Regions from separate parts of the Homo sapiens genome. Here region 1 is linked to region 2. The links come from fine-mapping of genetic effects on gene expression. A gene starts in region 2. The other region holds a variant in brackets. All regions are shown on one strand. Distances are from middle to middle.

Region 1 (2,815 bases), 230 kb after region 2:
GTTAAGATCACCCAACATGTGGCTTTGGCCTCCAACACCATGTGTTGGGTGATGAGACTTTCTTAGCCCCTAAAGCCCCTTAGATAGCCACTTACTTCCAGTCTTTTAAAGAAAGTCAGCTGTCTGAGGTCTTCCCACTCCCTGCCACCCCTCTCCTAAACTGCTTTAACAGGATTGAAAGCTCCATAGTGAAATGGAGCCAGTAGTAATAACTCCAAGGCCTGGCAGATTTGGTAATAGCCAGCATCTCTTTAGAGGCCATTCCTGGGTAGGCCTAATCTTCCATCACTTTCTCTGTCCAGTCCTGACAGCAGTGAGACTCTCACACATATTGTCCAATGCAGAACCTGTGGTCTGAATGCTTGCTCATTTACCAACAATAAACTGGGTGCCAATTTAGGGCCAGGTGCTCTGATGGCCCCCCAGGAACAACAGAGTGAATCAAAGGGATGCTGTTCCTACCCTCAAGGAACCTACAGTCTGGGAAAGATTTTATTTTCATAAATGCATAACAAATGTTGAAAAATCCCATAATCTCCTTTCTTTTATTTCTCTACCAAAAATTTCTTTTGGAATAAATTTACTATGGATAAGCCATGTCTTGGGGCCAACCCTGTCAAATCACAGCATGATTCATAAGCGCCTAAATATTCTTCCGTGTACCTCTCAACAGATTGTTTGGAAGTAATCCTTTCTTCAGCTGAAAACATCTGACCAAATGTAAACAGATTGTGTTTTTTAAGACACAATGTTGACTTTCTAAAACACCAGCTTAATTATTTAATGAAGTGACATGTGCTGTTTCTTTACTACATCAGTCTGCCTTTGGGGCCTGGTGGATTTTATCCAGGCAATTATTATCTGATGAGAGCTCCAGCAGATTCCAGCCAATGCCCCATCCTGGTAGGTGGGCTGGGGCACATGTGTAGGCAAATCCAGCTGTGGTGTGCAAGGCTTCAAGAAGGCCAATGGGTGGAAGCATTACTGCCTGTGGGATGGTGGCACTTAGGACATCTGTGATGGATGGTGATGTGATGTAGTCTGGGTTGTCGTTGGTTTATGGACTTTCCTCTGGTTAACTTCAGTACGTTGCTTATGTTGTGATTGGCTTGAGATGTACAGTGAAAAGAACCCGCGGACCAGACTCCCTTTTGTTTCCTATGTTGGGTGGAATTTCCTGGGAGAAGCAGCGGGAACAAAGAACAAAAAGTATGTATCTTGTTGAACCTAGAATCTTTACTCTGGCAGAGAATTTCAGGGACATTGAGTCCAGTCCCTCGTTTTACAGAGGAGGATCCTGATCCTGCAGGAGCTGAGGATCAGCGGTAGGCAAGGCTAGGACCGGAACCAAGTCTCCTGGCTCCCACTTCAGCGCTCTGCCTACTCTACCTGATGATAAGTGACCTCTTGGGTTGTCATAAATTTGGAAAAGCTAATGGCCATATCCTTTTTTTTTT[T/A]AAAAATACTGTCTTCCCTCAACCCCTAATCAGAAAATGTTTGCTTTATTTGGAATCTAAAGGAGAAATATCCAGAAACACTCAGTTCAATATGACTATGTGGAGGAAATGAGCTCTCTATTGAAAGAGACCTCATGACTTGCGGGGTGTGTCATAGCTTAGAGCTGTGGGAGGGACAGGCCTGTCCCTAGGCGAACTGTTTGTAGAATCATCTGGAAGCTTGAGGACACCTTCTGCTGGCAAACGCTCCAACTCAACTGCCACTGAGAAACAAATTAAATATAATTTGTTCTAATGAGATTTCCAGCCAGATTTCTGGAACAGAGAGGTTTGGATAAAGGAGACTAGGTCTCTAAACTGAATCATGGATTCTTTTTAAGGACATGCCTTATCCCAATCTATTATTGAAACCCACATGAGTTTTGTGGCATCCACTGTGGGTTTGGATTCACAATTTATACCTGTAACTTATTTTAAAAGCACCCTATGCCTTCAGGACTTTTCGTAAAGAGGAACTGTCCCCTACCAAGGATACAGCCAAATAAAAAAAATTGGTTGAAGTCCTATTTAGAAAATTCATGCTTAAAATTATGCAACTACTGGTACTGTGTACTTGTGAGATGATATTATCTGATGACAATTTATCATTGTCAGTGAGATACAGGGCTGTGTATTTTTTTTTTCTTCAATTCTACTGTGATATGGAAGCAATTATCTTGTCAAGGCTGGAAAAACTTTAGTTCTGTCAAACAGTATAATAAAGCAACAAAAAGTTTGGAAAGTGACGTGAAAGACTGCGACTAATCTTAAGGCTTTGATGACTTCATGGATTTGGTTACCTGTGAGCCCGTCTCCACCTGGCATGGTAGCTCTGCTCCCCCTCACCTTCCAGATGTGCTCTGGGGAAAGTCCAGGACTGGACGAGTGCTCAGGCCTGGGTCACTCCTCCTGGATGCTGCGAGCGGGTTTTTACTAATTACACAAATCAATAACAGATGTGCTGAGGCTGAGCACCTCATATTTATTCCACAATGTGTTTTCTTTAAATGACAAATGTTTTTTAAGGCCCCCAAAAGGTCATTAGATAGGTTTCCTCTGCAACACATAGGAAAAGGGGGATACACATCTCCAAAGAGGTAGTAAGTTCATCCTGTTATTTGAACAAGGAGCTCAGCCAGTGGTCGAGCAGAAAGAGCAGAGAAAGCCCTTTGCAGCTGTTTAAGAACTTTATTAAGGTTTATTTAAATGTGTCATTCTATAAATCATAGGTTTTGTGTTCTCCAAGCTGTTTTTAGATTGTAATTTGTAGCTGGAGTATTTTTAACTCTATGTAAAATGGTTGATAAGGCTGATAAATT
Region 2 (2,815 bases):
TTGTTACTGTGGAACCTTGGTAGGAAAAGGCCCTTGTTTCTGTGAAAACCTGAGGGCCCAGCGTGAGGATGTTCCAGGAGAGTGGAGTTGATGGTGCGCAGGGGATTAGCTTGCTCTGGTTATAGAGACATGATTAAAATCTATTTGATTTCAGTACTTAACTGGCAAATCTGATGCAACTTCTGGAAAATTCCTAGATGGCTTTAGGCATATTTAAAAGAAGCCATATTTTTCCTTTTAAAAATAGATATGCACCAAAATATTTTATTTTCATCTAATCCCGCTTTAACAACCAGAATCCCCTTAAAAGCAATTCCAAACTAAAAGATGTAAATCCATTTCCTATGTGCATTTGTTCTTTGGTACCATCAGGGTTAATGTTTGCATCCTCTGTGCTGAAATTAAGGATGTTGGGAAAGAAGTGTCATTGCTTTGCCTACTAAATGTCACTTGAGTATGCTTAGCTTTCATCCATAAGAGAGCTGAACTTCCCCTGTAAAAAAAAAAAAAAAAAAAAAAAAAAAGTGACAAAAACCCACTGCTGATTCTTTCATCTCTGCAAAAGCAGGTGGGAACTGCAAACAGATTTGCTTATCTTCCTCAGTCAAGGGCTGGTAAAAGTTTGGTAAGTAGGCCTGGTAGCCGGTGTCCCCTTCCATTGTTCATTTTCATCCTCCTGAATTCTTGATTCCCACAGAGGAAGCCATCCTCAGAAGCCAGCCTCTTGGGAGTTTCCTTTTGTTTCCCCAAGATTAACCAGTTCTGTCCTGTCAGCAGGAGCAGGCAACTAGGGGAGGAGAGGCTCTTCAGGGCTTTCAGCATTTTTCCAAGGAGTGCTTTTCTCCCTCAATTCCTCACTGACAGTGAAGCTGCTTTCTTGTAAGGTCTTCCTCTTCTTCTGATGAGATGCTGATTCTGATTGCCATCTAGCAGCTTCCGGTGGTGGTAAGTGGTCAAGAGTGTTTTTCCAGGAGTTGATCTCAGGTTTTTGAGAATGCCCCCTAGAGACCCAGTTTGTTTTCTGTATCATCCCTCAAGCTTTCAGAGTAGCCTTGCTTTTCTCCTTGGCATGGTCACGGAATGGATACCTGTTTGATCTTCCTGCACTGCTGAGAAATCTTCCTTTTGGGGGAGAGGATTAAGTCTGGGTTGAGGTGAGTAGATGGGTAGCATTCAATGGTTAGTGAGATGAAGTGGAAATTTAGCTGTGGGCTGGTTGGAACGATCTGTTTCTTTTCTCCAGATCCCTATTTTGTTTTGCTGTTTTCATCTTGGTGACTAAGGTTTCACAAATATTCTTTATTATTCCCCTTTTGCTAAAAAATAAATTTGGGGGAGTTAGTTGGAAATGGGAGATGTGACATTTTCTTTTTTGTTGTTTGAAATGTCTATTTTTTACTCTGTTAGCATGCCTATTAAATGACCAATGATAGTAGCATAAAGGTACATTTCTTCTTGGTTTGTAGGTCTTTGTCACTTCCTTTGGTAGTAGTTGGTTTTATTTTTTTCACGGGGTTTGTATACAGTGCACCTATTCAATATATTGTTTATGGTCAATTTATGCTTTAGACATGAACAGTTTGCACTGAGCTATCCCTCTGAGGTTTGAGGGTTATGTTTTTAGTGCTAAAATTTGTCTGAACAGAAAAAGGTATCCTTCTAGTTGTTTTGTTTATAGGCAAGAGAGTGTCTCAGGTCCCTGGTTAACAATTAGCTGTTTTGAAGAAAAGAAAACTGGTGAAAAACATTAATTGGAAGCTGAAGTCTTGTTAGAAAGTAAATGAGGAAACACAGGTTTTCTTGTGGGATTACCAACACCTGTGCCCATGAAGTATCCCCTTTTACTCAGCTGTTGCTCCATGCTGGCCTTTACTACAAAATGTAAACTCAGAGTGATTTCAGTTTTGATTTTTTTAAATGTATTTTTTATTTTTTATGTGATATGTAATAACTGCACATATTTATGGGGTACATGTGATATTTTGGTATATGCATACGATGTGTAATTAGCATATATATCACCTCAAACATTTACCATTTCTTTGTGTTGGGAACATTCCAAATCTGCTAGCTATTTTGAGATACAATAAATTATCATTATCTATATCGTTTATTTTATCGTTTATATCTATATCGTTTATTATAAATAAAAAATAAATTATCATTATCTATTGTCATACTACCGTGTTATCAAATACTAGAACCTGTTCCTTCTATCTGACTGTATGTTTGTACCCATTAACCAGCCTACCTTCACCCCCTTCTTCCTCTTCCCCTTCCTAACCTCTGGTAACCACCATTCTCCCTCTCTACCTTCATGAGATCAACTTTTTTAGCTCCCACATATGACAGAGGATATGTGATATTTGTCTTTCTGTGCCTGGCTTATTTTGCTTAACATAATATCCTCCAGTTCCATCCATGTTGCTGCAAATGATAGAGTTTTATTCTTTTTCATGGCTGAATAATATTCCATTGTATATAAATACCACATTTAAAAATTTTATTCCTCAAGAAGAAATATTATTGCTTCCATATCTTGGCTATTGTGAATAGTGCTGCAATAAACAGGGGAGTACAGATATCTCTTCAAGGTACTTATTTCCTTTCTTTTGGATGTATTCCCAGAAGTGGGATTGCTGGATCATATGGTGGATCTGTTTTCACTTTTTTTGAGAAACCACAGAGTGATTTATTTTAACCTATATTGTGCCTTTATATTGTCTCATCATGCAGAAATATTTAAAAATGAGGGAACAAATGATTTTTTTTGTGCCCCTGGAGGATTTTTTTGTGGGTGGGAGAATTTTATTTT

The links. PIP is the estimated chance that this variant, and not a neighbour inherited with it, causes the effect. A credible set is the group of variants that fine-mapping cannot tell apart.
Region 1: its variant is the best candidate, but not a certain one, in a credible set for the expression of ATP8B4 in whole blood (INTERVAL, PIP 0.75).

What each region holds. Positions count from the first base shown.
Region 1 is chr15:49,887,755-49,890,569 of GRCh38, reverse strand. All of the region lies in intron 23 of ATP8B4 (ATPase phospholipid transporting 8B4 (putative)), which reads left to right. Among named protein-coding and RNA genes, the nearest start is that of ATP8B4, 230 kb to the left of the region's middle. The variant T/A (reference allele first, on the strand shown) is at 1,458.
Region 2 is chr15:50,117,462-50,120,276 of GRCh38, reverse strand. ATP8B4 (ATPase phospholipid transporting 8B4 (putative)) reads left to right here and starts at 1,044. Exons shown (of 28, transcript NM_024837.4): 1 at 1,044-1,154.